3 linked regions of the Homo sapiens genome follow. The protein of the gene in region 3 interacts with the protein of the main gene of each other region in a biochemical or structural test. Each region holds a gene or a part of one and is shown on either strand. Other genes may lie near its edges.

What was found.
Region 1: the proteins of EFHC1 (region 3) and TRPM2 form a complex in vitro, tested with the Homo sapiens proteins (one study listed by BioGRID).
Region 2: the proteins of EFHC1 (region 3) and SMURF2 interact in a surface display test, tested with the Homo sapiens proteins (one large-scale study listed by IntAct).

Annotation. Positions count from the first base shown.
Region 1 is NC_000021.9:44,398,621-44,402,120, forward strand, and holds part of TRPM2 (transient receptor potential cation channel subfamily M member 2), read left to right. Parts: intron 1-675; coding exon 676-821; intron 822-1,638; coding exon 1,639-1,751; intron 1,752-3,060; coding exon 3,061-3,277; intron 3,278-3,500.
Region 2 is NC_000017.11:64,557,808-64,561,307, reverse strand, and holds part of SMURF2 (E3 ubiquitin-protein ligase SMURF2), read left to right. Parts: intron 1-3,500. UniProt on the Homo sapiens protein: E3 ubiquitin-protein ligase which accepts ubiquitin from an E2 ubiquitin-conjugating enzyme in the form of a thioester and then directly transfers the ubiquitin to targeted substrates.
Region 3 is NC_000006.12:52,425,848-52,431,030, forward strand, and holds part of EFHC1 (EF-hand domain-containing protein 1), read left to right. Parts: intron 1-5,183. UniProt on the Homo sapiens protein: Microtubule inner protein (MIP) part of the dynein-decorated doublet microtubules (DMTs) in cilia axoneme, which is required for motile cilia beating.

The DNA of each region.
Region 1 (3,500 bases), on a different chromosome or scaffold from region 3:
TTCATGATCACAGGGGTCGAAGTGGGTTCTTCTCGCTGTCTGCTGTTTCTGCGTGTGGTCACAGAACTGGTTGCACCAGATCTCCAGTCGGGGTGGCGTCAGTGAAGCATCAGAATGCAGGCTTTCAAAATATCCTGGGTTTTCCAATAGTGATGATATTCCTAGGAAGAGTTGGGGAGGTTTGGAATCTTGTGGCCTCTGGCTGCGTGACTCCTAAACCATAATTTCTAATTTGTGGCTACTTTGTTAGTCTTACAAACGCAGACTGCTCCCAGGCAAGAAGGGGGTTCGTTTCGGGAAAGGGCCGCTATCATCTCTGTTTGGAAGTTAAACTATAAACGAAGTTCCTCTCAAAGTTAGTGTGGCCTATGCCCAGGAATGGACAAGGGCAGCTTGGAGGTTAGAGGCAAGATGGAGTCCATTAGGTCAGTTCTCGGTCCCTGTCTGAGTTTTCTCCCTGTTGTCATTTTTGTAGAGGCAGTTCCAGCCCTACGTGCCCTCTCCCTGGGGTCCTCGTCCCTGGGCCTGGGTGTTTTGAGACACCAGCCCCACATTTGCCCTGTGCCCTTCCCTGTGTCCTGGTGGTGCTGTCCCGAGTGGTTGCCCTCTGACCCGTCCCCAGGGCTCAGTGATTGTGACCTGCTGCTCTGACGGGGCTCTCATATCTCCGCCCAGGGGTCTTCACCGAGTGCTACCGGAAGGACGAAGAGAGAGCCCAGAAACTGCTCACCCGCGTGTCCGAGGCCTGGGGGAAGACCACCTGCCTGCAGCTCGCCCTGGAGGCCAAGGACATGAAGTTTGTGTCTCACGGGGGCATCCAGGTGACCTCCCAAGAGCCCCTTCCAGAAACAGACGCCTGTGGTGCCTGCAGGGCGGACACAGCCTCCTGTTCGTGCAGTTGGCACGCACACTCACACAGGCTTCAGGGCCCTCAGCAGCTCGGGGACAGCGCCTGACCCCTCGGCCACCTGCTCCAGGCTCTGGCCTCCCATTTTGCAGATGGGGGGAAGCTAACATGAAGCAAAAGCAGGAGCTGGTGGCCATGGAGATCGCAATTCACCTCCCCATGGATGTTCCTACCTGGGAGCGGCAGGCAGAAGCCCAGGTGGCTCTGGGAACGGCGTCTGCCCTCTCTCCCTGGAGGGATAAGCGGGACACGGCGTGTCCTCCCTGGAGCAGCAGGGGCTCCCAGGCATGGCTGCCCTCAGCATCGCCCTGGAACCCCCGGCAGGGCCTGGCTCCCAGCGAGTGCCCCTTGCACGCTGGGCTTCCTTGGAGCGCCGAGCTATTGCCAAGTCCATGAGCTCCCGTCATGTCCTGGGCTGTGCCAGGCCTAGGGAGGCCTGGGGAAGGGTCCTGTCCCCCACTGCAGAGCTCAGAGGGGCCAGTGCTCTACAGCCTGCAACTGCGGGGCCTTCGAAGCCAGCAGAGATGGGGTCCCATAGCTTGAGGTCAGGTGAAAGGCGGGATTGGACACCCAAAGCCCCAGGGCAAGCTCTGTGTCTTCACCACTTTCTGCTGTGAGACTGCAGGCTAGCTCTGTCCACTAGGCACCCCGAGTCCTCAGCAGACAGCTGACGGGCACCATCTGGGGCACAGGGCTGGGCACTGCCATCCTGAGACTGCCCCCATCCGCAGGCCTTCCTGACCAAGGTGTGGTGGGGCCAGCTCTCCGTGGACAATGGGCTGTGGCGTGTGACCCTGTGCATGCTGGCCTTCCCGCTGCTCCTCACCGGCCTCATCTCCTTCAGGTGCTGCAGGGCTGCGGGGCTGCGGGACTGTGGGGCTGCGGGGCTGCGGGAGAGGCTCCTGGGGGCTCAGGATCTTCCCTAGATCCCCTCGCTGGGAGCAAGTCATGTGTCCTCAGAATTGTCCCTGGATCCTGGGGCTGTAGAGATGGGGGTGGGAAGCAGAGCAGGGCCCCACGTGCTGGAAGCACCTGCCTTGCCCCAGCCCCAGCACTGATCTCATGATGCTGATGAGCCCGTCCCTCAGCCACATCAGCCTGGGGTTGGGGAGGCCAGGAAAGATGGTCTCCTGCTCCTGCCGGCACTGTAGACCTGAGCCAGTCTGCGGCGTGGGCAGTTAGTGCAGGTCTGGGATGCGAGCAGCGAGCTGCGGCTGAGTGCCTCCCTGTCCTCGCAGCCGCAGAGCCTGTATTGATGGAATCGCTTTCCCTTATGAAGGAGGAGGACACGGCTGGCCATGGTTGAAGACCTGGCCTGGCCTGGTGTCCCCACCTGCACCTCCTCAGAGGCTTGCTGGGGCGTTGTGGGATCTGCTGTGTTTTACTGAGGGCTGGATGGAGGCTCAGGGTCTCCTGGGAGTCAGGGCAGATTCAAGACCCCAGCGAGGTGGCTGAGCCCCTTCTGCAACCCGCAGTCCACACTGCCTGCCTCCTTCCCTTTCTCCTCACGGCCAGGATGGGTACTTGAGTGTTCAGGAATCCTGGTGGGAAACTGAGGCAGGGAGGAGCGGCTCAGGTGTCCTAAAGCAGTGCTGGCTTCTCTCCTGCTCTCCCGAGGATGGCAGAGCCGTGTCACTGATGGCCGCCTCTGCTCCCGTTCCAGCGGCCCGGGGATAGGGACCTGGGATCAGGGCACACCACAGGGGGAGTGTGGTCAGCCCCACCCCCATTGAGGACGGCAAGGAAAGCCTGTCCCCATTTACAGGAGGGTGACTAAGGCCTGAGCGTCCACTGAGCACTGGGAGCTCTGAAGCTGGGGCCCACCCAAGGCTGGGCTTGGGGCAGGCTGGGCCTCCCTGTTTGCAGCCATTAAGGTCATGGCCATGGGCAGGGCGTCAGCGGGCATCCCTGTGTCCTCACTTTGCTGGGCTGTGGGGTCCAGCCCCACCCCGGTGGCTGTGTGTGAGGCTCCCAGGCTGTGCTGTGCCGGCTCCGCCTGTAGCTGCCGTTATGGCCCCGGATCCCTGAGTGCTTTTGCCTCTAAAAGCACATCTCTCTGAGGGGCACGGGGGATCACGGGGTGGCCAAAGCCTGTGGAGGTCAGGACCCTGGCCCTGGTGGTCACTGTCTCCTCTCTGCTGTGACGGCCGCAGGGAGAAGAGGCTGCAGGATGTGGGCACCCCCGCGGCCCGCGCCCGTGCCTTCTTCACCGCACCCGTGGTGGTCTTCCACCTGAACATCCTCTCCTACTTCGCCTTCCTCTGCCTGTTCGCCTACGTGCTCATGGTGGACTTCCAGCCTGTGCCCTCCTGGTGCGAGTGTGCCATCTACCTCTGGCTCTTCTCCTTGGTGTGCGAGGAGATGCGGCAGGTACAGCCCCACCCGCTTTTCCACGCCCCAGCCCGGGGCCACCCACTTGGCTGCATTCTCATAGGGGACCCATGGCTTAGAGCCCACCCCATCTAGCCTGCCCAGCTCCCTGCAAGCTGAGCAGAGCCGGTGTTTCCTCCCCAAAATGGGTGGCTGGGGCGCTGCCCTCCAAGCCCCTCCCTCCTCATGCCCCCTGCGCCTGCTTCCCTGCTTTCCCTCGGCC
Region 2 (3,500 bases), on a different chromosome or scaffold from region 3:
CTCCCCAGTAGACCATCTGAGTCCCATGAGACTGCAGGCCCTGTGTTTTCTCCATCTCTCTCTTTAAGTACATTATTGCCTCTGCTTTACATTGTCAGGAACAGTTTTGAGATTTAAATGATATATAACCTGAACTGAATACTGGTTCTCTTTGCTTCCATTTGTTATGCCTTTTTTCCTTGTTAAATGAATGTGTATGCATGCATGTGTGTATACACATGTACATATCATGATGGTCCTCAGAATGTTTCAGTACAGAAGGTAGAATGCTTCTGCTACATTTGTAACTCACAGGTCAAGTCAAATTAATTTTCTTTCTTTTTTTTTTTTTTTTTTTTTTTGGAGACAGGGTCTCCCTCTGTCACCCAGGCTGGAGTGTAGTGGCGTGATCTCAGCTCACTGCAACCTCCCCATCCTGGGCTCAAGAGAGCCTCCCACCTCAGCCTCCTGAGTAGCTGGGACTACAGGTACAAGCCACCACACCCGGCTAGTTTTTGTTTTTTTTTTTTTGTAGAGATGGGGTTTTGCCATGTTGCCCAGGCTATTCTCGAACTTCTGAGCTCAAACAATCTGCCTGCCCCAGCCTTCCGAAGTGCTGGGATTACAGGTGTGAGCCACCACACCCAGCCAGTGATTTATTTCTGATATTATATTTACTACAAGAATTCTTTTCTATGTGTGAAAATTCGTTTTATATAAATGGAGAAACACTGTAGCTCTGTATTGAAATGTTCCAAGGATCATTGTGGTAATTCTGCTTTCCCTAATCTTAAATCCAACCAAAATTATGTTTTCAATAATTCCCATTAATTGTTATTTAGCATTACATGTGTGTATTTGTAGCCTTATTTTCATTCTGTCACCTTTTAAACCTACGGATGGATAGTTTCTTTAGTGTGGATTTTTAAAAATAATCCCTTGTACATCATACTTAGGACTTGACAGTTTCTGTGGAATTTGTATTACTTACTCATAACTAGAGTGAATGTTTATTGGGAACACTTCATCATCAACTACTGGTGGCATCTAAGTACTATAATTATATGTATAGATCAAATAAGTAGTTTATTTTATTTATTTAGTTTTTTAGAGACGGGGTCTCACTCTGTCACCCAGGCTCCATGGAGTGCAGTGGTGTGATCATGGCTCACTGCAGCTTCGAACTCCTAGGTACAAGTGATCCTCCTGCCTCAGCCTCCTAAAGAGCTAGGACTATAGGCACATGCTTCCATGCCTAATTAAAAAAAAAAAAATTTGGCCAGGTGCAGTGGCTCACACCTGTAATCCCAGCACTTTGGGAGACTGAGGTGGGCAGATCACGAGGTCAAGAGATTGAGACCATCCTGGCCAACATGATGAAACCCCGTCTCTACTAAAAACTAAAAAAAAAAGATTAGCTGGGTATGGTGGCGCACACCTGTAGTCCCAGCTATTCGGGAGGCTGAGGCAGGGGAATCACTTGAACCCAGGAGGCAAAGGTTGCACTGAGCCGAGATCGTGCTACTGCACTCCAGCCTGGTGACAGAGTGTGACTCCGTCTCAAAAAAAAAAAAATTTTTTTTTTTTTGGTAGAAACAGGATCTTGTGTTGCCCAGGCTGGTCTCAAACTCCTGGCCTCAAGTGATCCTCCAGCCTCCGCCTCCCTAAGTGCTGGAATTACAGGCGCGAGCCACCATGCCTGGCTCGTAGTCAGTTTTTTTTGTTGTTGTTGTTTTTGAGATGGAATCTCACTCTGTCGCCAGGCTGGAGTGCAGTGGCGCAATCTCGGCTCCCTGCAACCTCTGCCTCCTGGGTTCAAGCGATTCTCCAGCCTCAGTCTCCCGGGTAGCTGGACTACAGGCGCATACAACCACGCCTAGCTAATTTTTGTATTTTTAATAGAGACGGGGTTTCACCATGTTGGCCATGCTGGTCTCAATCTCCTGACCTTGTGATCTGCCCGCCTTAGCCTCCCAAAGTGCTGGGATTACAGTCATGAGCCACCGAACCCAGCCCAGTTTTTTGTTTTTTAACCTTACTACTGTCAGGGTTTGAGCAGAATAAATGGAATGTGACAGTGATCTGCTTTTTCTGAACTTTATTCCATAGTAGAATCTCAAAGTAGTTGAGTTCTGCTCTTATTTGTGTTCTAAATACTTGGTAAAACAAAACAAAAATTTGGATTTTCTTTTTAAAAAACACATACACACACCAAAAACACAAGACACATCAGATGAGTGTTATGTTGGGAAGGCTGCTTATGTGGAGACGTTACTTCTTTTTTTAATCTCTAGAGTAGTTTTTCAAATGTTACATAATGGTAGTAATTTAATTTAGACTCCATCACATAGAATTTTGAAACAGTTTCCTTTAACTAGTTTTAATACTATTCTGCATTTGCTCAAAAATATTATTCAATCTGTTTAATCCATAATATCAAAATATATCATTTAAATAACCTTCCCTAGCCAAGGAATGACAAGAATTAAGACTAGAACTACATCTCTTAAGTCCTAGACTAGTGAATTTCCAAAGTGAGTAACAAATTATCTTTTATACTTTGAAAAATTTGAAGGTTTTAATAAATTCAAGGTGGAAGTACTTTTTATTCCAGGTTTTAAAAACATTGATTTACATTGAAGTCAAGAAGTGGTATGGAACATACCCAAAGAATGCACGTTTGCCCTTGAGTCCATACCTACACCAAATGCCTTGCAATCCTTGCCCACTTATATTTTTATCATGGTATGTTTCAGGGTTTATACAGTGAATGATAATGAAATGAATAATGAAATGTCCTTAATACTACAACAAAATATAGCCTTGTCCAAAATGAAGAGTAAATCAATACTATATTATATGTCTGTATAAACTGGTCGTGATAGGAGTAGACCAGGATAATAGAGATGACGTGGACTTTTTTTTTTTTTCTTTGAGACAGGGTCTCTGTCACCCAGCCTGGGGTGCAGTGGTGCAATCTCAGCTCACTGCAGCCTCAACCTCCAGGGCTCAAGCAATCCTCCCACCTCTGCCTCCCAAGTAGCTGGGACTATAGGCACTTGCCATCAACCTGGCTAATTTTTGTATTTTTTGTAGAGATGGGATTTCGCCTTGTTGCCCAGGCTGGTCACAAACTCCTGAGCACAAGCGAACCACCTGTCTTGGCCCCCCAAAGTGCTGGGATTACAGGTGTGAGCCACCGTCCCCAGCCTCACATGGACATTTTGAAATAAAACCATATTCTTCCTTTTGTTTTATGTTTATTATGGATTACAAATTTATTTGGCAATTAAAAGTAACAGACCACTGGACCGTATCATCTCGTGAGTAGCTGAACTGTTGGATAATACTTTTATACTCTTTGATGCTAAAATATAATAAAATTGCCTAAATTTTGCGTGAGATGTTACTTCAATATAATAGAGTTTTTATATGCTATTTGGGTACGGTAGATTTTTCCAATGTGATCTTATATAACTGTAGTTAGTGCTTTTTTGCCTTTTATTAATTTAAATAATTAT
Region 3 (5,183 bases):
TTTTGGAAATTCTTAGGACTGTTCCTCATAGACAGAATATAACTTCATTTCTTACTTAGGTAATAAAGACCAGGACATCTATTCCAAGTGCCCTCATCTTTTCCCCTTGCTCCTGTATAATTCCAGCATCACCTACTATATTGTGTTTCCCAGACTGACTTCCAGCTCTTTATTTCTGATGTTCTTCTTTCATCTTTTTCATCTTCAAGTTTCATATTATTTCTATTTCAGACACTCTAGTGACTGCTTCTCTAGCTAGAGTCATATCATCCTGTCCTCTTTCTATAATACCTTGTGATGCCTTTAAGCAAGATAACTTTGTTTCTCACTTGACTGTCAAATCACTTACAATCTGACTTCTCCCTACCCACAGCCCCAGAATACTTTCTCCTAGGTAGCCAGTGCTGTCCTTTTACCAGATCTAGAGAGGTTTACTTTGCCAGCATTGTCTTTGGCTTGTTTATGCCATCTGACACTGTTGACCCTTCCTCCCTTCTTGAAACTGTGCTCTTCTTTTGCCTCCATGACTCTCATTTTCCTCCTTCTTTCTATGTGGTTGCTTATTCTTTAGCCTCCCTTCCTCTTTTCAATTCTTAACTTACAAGTATTTTCAAGGCTCTATCTCATTCTTTATATAATTTTCTTGAGATCTCACCCACTTTCGTGATTTCAACCGTCACCTCACCGTAGAGAATGTCACTATTTAGTTCCAACTCTGACATCATTGAGACTCCAGATCTGTATCCCCCTGGCCCATGGGATATCTTCACCTGGATGAACTGTTGGTACCTCAAGTTCTGTATGTCTCTAACTTATCTCTATCCCTCACCTTTTCCCATAGATCTGCTTTCCCTGTGTGGTTCCACTAGGTAATCCAAGCTTGAAACCTGAGCCATCTTTGGCTTTTTCTCTCCTTTATCCTCCACACTTAATGAGTTGCCAAGTCAAATATCTCTCACTTTCATTTCCTCTGCCACTATCATAGTTCAGACAAGCCAAATGACTACCTAACTGTTGTTTTAGTCTCATTCCTAGTCCTTATGCTTATAACAGGTATGCTGCCTTGTTTATTCTCTAGAGTTCAGCTCTGATTATGTCATTTTTCTGGGAAAATGCCATCAGGCTTTCTTAACCAATACAGTAAACATTACCACCATTCACCTCACTGTGACATGAAAGTCATCTTTCATTCTTCTTTCCCCTCACAATCCACATCTAATCTATTAGCAAGTTCTATTGTTTCTGCTTCTAAAATATGTAACTAATTCATTTACTTATTTTCATCCTCACTATTACCATAAATTTATTTTCCACAGAGCAGCCAGGCTTATTTTTTGAAAATCAGATTATGTCACATACTGACTGAAACACTTCCATGGCTTCCCTATCATCTATAAAGATCCAACTCTACAGGTTCCTCACAGCCCTACTGGAGCTGGCCCTCCCTGCTCTCTCCCCAGCCTCATCTTGGGTCCTTTTTCTCACCTATCATGTTTCAATACATTGGATTTATTTTTACTGATTTCCTTGAAATGGCAGCATTTGAAAATTCCAATTCAGGGCCTTTTTGTACATGGCATTTCTCCTATCTGAAATAGCTTCCCCACCATCCTTAAGTGGCTGACTCCATCTTTCCTTTCAGTGAGGCTTTTCCTGGCCACTCTGCTATGGCAGTTCCTCCTCATTTTTCTATATCACTTCCCTCTCTTTTTTTTTTTTCCCCTTTGCAGCACTATATTATAATTTGTGTTGCTGATTTGTTTAGTGTTTATCTGTCCCACCTGAGTGTATACTTCATGAAGGTAAGGACTTATATAGTTTATTATATATTTAGTGCTCAATAAATATCAGTTCTAAAATGACATGAATAATTAACAAAATTTATTTCTTGTCTGTGTCACTGCTGAAAATTGGCAAGTCAAACACGTACCATATATGCTTATAATAATGTAAAATTAAAAATGTGACTTGGCTTTTTATAATTGTGTGTGATATGAAAATATTTATGCAGCATTTCCCCCCTTCATCTTGAAGTAAATACAAATATTTTTATGTTTATTGTGGCATTCTGAGCACTTCCTGGGAGTTAGAAGACCTGGATTCTAATTCTGGGTCTCCTACCAGCTAACATTGTGACCTTGTAGTCACAATCTCTAATTTCCTCGTCTATAAACTCAGAAGGTTAGAATACATGATAATCAGGAGCCCAGCCTGCTATAAAATTCCATGAAAAGTATATTTTTAAACACAGTATTTAAATATAATTTTTCTTTTCTTTCTACGTAACAATCAAGTTCTTATTCTACCTGGGAAAGCTGATGTTATCCCACTACTTTAAAAACAATTTTTTTTATTTCCATAGGTTACTGGGGAACAGGTCGTGTTTGGTTACATGAGTAAGTTCTATAGTGGTGATTTGTGAGATTTTGGTGCACCCATCACCCAGGCAGTATACAGTGCCCCCAATTTGTAGTCTTTTATCCCTCACCCCCTTCCCACCCTTTCCCCCTGAGTCCCCAAAGTTCATTGTGTCATTCTTATGCCTTTGCATCCTCATACCTTAGCTACCACTTATGAGTGAGAACATACAATGTTTGGTTTTCTATTCCTGAGTTACTTCACTTAGAATAATAGTCTCCAGTCTCATCCAAGTCACTGTGAATGCTATTAATTCATTCCTTTTTATGGCTAAATAGTATTCCATCATATATATCACATTTTCTTTGTCCACTTATTGATTGATGGGTATTTGGGTTGGTTCCATATTTTTGCAGTTGCAAATTGTGCTGCTATAAACATGCATGTACAAGTATCTTTTTTGTATGATGAGTTCTTTTCCAATGGGTAGATACCCAGTAGTGGGATTGCTGGATCAAATGGTGGTTCTACTTTTAGTTCTTTGAGGAATCTTCACACTTTTAGTTCTTTAAGGAATCTTCCATAGTGGTTGTACTAGTTTACATTCCCACCAGCAGTTCCCAGTTCATTGCATCCACACCAACATCTAATATTTTATGATGTTTTGATTATGGCCATTCTTGCAGGACTAAGATGATATCACATTGTGGTTTTGATTTACATTTCCCTGATCATTAGTGATGTTGAACATTTTTTCATATGTTTGTTGGCCATTTGTATATCTTCTTTTGAGAATTGTCTATTCATGTCCTTAGCCCACTTTTTGATGGGCTTCTTTGTTTTTCCTTGCTAATTTGTTTGAGTTCATTGTAAATTCTGGATATTAATCTTTTGTCAGATGTATAGATTATGAAGATTTTTTCCCACTCTGTGGGTTGTCTGTTTACTCTGTTGACTGTTCCTTTTGCCGTGAAAAAGCTCTTTAGGTTAATTAAGTCCCAGCTATATATCTTTGTTTTTATTGCATTTGCTTTTGGGTTCTTGGTCATGAAACCCTTGCCTAAGCCAATGTCTAGAAGAGGTTTTCCAATGTTATTTTCTAGAATTTTTATAGTTTCAGGTCTTAGATTTAAGTCCTTGATCCATCTTGAGTTGATTTTTATATAAGGTGAGAGATGAGGATCCAGTTTTATTCTCCTACTTGTGGCTTGCCAATTATCCCAGCACAATTTGTTGAATAGGGTGTCCTTTCCTCACTTTATGTTTTTGTTTGCTTTGTCAAAGATCAGTTGGCTGTAAGTATTTGGCTTTATTTCTGGGCTCTCTGTTCTATTCCATTGGTCTATGTGCCTATTTTTATACCAGTACCATGCTGTTTTGGTAACTATGGTCTTATAGTATAGTTTGAAATCAGGTAGTGTGATGCCTCCAGGTTTATTCTTTTTGCTTATTCTTGCTTTGGCTATGCGGGCTCTTTTTAGGTTCTATATGAAGTTTAGGATTGTTTTTTCTAATTCTGTGAAGAATGATAGTGGTATTTTGATGGGAATTGCATTGAATTTTTAGATTGCTTTTGGCAGTATGGTCATTTTCACAATGTTGATTCCCACCCTATCAGCATGGAATGTGTTTCCATTATTTGTTTCATTATTTGTGTCATCTGTTATTTCTTTCAGCAGTGTTTTGTAGTTTTCCTTGTAGAGGTCTTTCACCTCCTTGGTTATGTATATTTCTAAGTTTTTGTTTGTTTGTTTGTTTTTCAGCTATTGTAAAAGGGGTTGAGTTCTTGATTTGATTCTCAGCTTGGTCGCTGTTGGTGTAAAGAAGAGCTACTGATATGTGTATATTAATTTTGTATCCAGAAACTTCGCTGAATTCTTTTATCAGTTCTAGGAGCTTTCTGGAGGAGTCTTTAGGATTTTCCAGGTAAACAATCATATCATCAGTGAACAGTGACAGTTTGACTTCTTTACCTATTTGGATGACCTTTATTTCTTTCTGTTGTCTGATTGCTCTGCCTAGGACTTCTTCTAGTACTGTGCTGAAGAGGAGTGGAGAGAGTGGGCATCCTTATGTTGTCCCAGTTCTCAGAGGGAATGCTTTCAACTTTTCCCCATTCAGCATTATGTTGGCTGTGGGTCTGTCATAGATGGCTTTTATTACATTGAGGTATGTCCCTTGTATCAATTTTGCTGAGAATTTTAATCAGAAAGGGGTACTAGATTTTGTTGATTGCTTTTTCTGCATCTATTGAGATGATCGTGTGATTTTTGTTTTTAATTCTGTTTATGTGGTGTATCACATTTATTGACTTGCGTATGTTAAATCATCCCTGCATCCCTGGTATGAAAACCACTTAATCGTGGTGGATTATCTTTTTCATATGTTGTTGAATTCGGTTAGCTAGTATTTTGTTAAGGATTTTAGCATCTATGTTCATCAGGGATATCAGTCTATAGTTTTATTTTTTGGTTATGTCCTTTCCTGGTTTTGGTATTAGGGTGATACTGCCTTCATAGAATGATTTATGGAGGATTCCCTCTTTCTCTATCTTGTAGAATAGTGCCAATAGTACCAGTTTTTCTTTGAATATCTGGTAGAATTCTTCTGTGAATCTGTCTGGTCCTGGACTTTTTCCTGCTGGTAGTTTTTTAATTATTTCAGTCTTGCTGCTTGTTGTTGGTCTGTTCAGGGTATCTAATTCTACCTGAATTAAGCTAGCAGGGTTTTATCTTTCAGGAATTTATCTATCTACTCTAGTTTTCTAGTTTATGTGCGTAAAGGTGTTCATAGTAGCCTTGAATGACCTTTTGTATTTCTGTGGT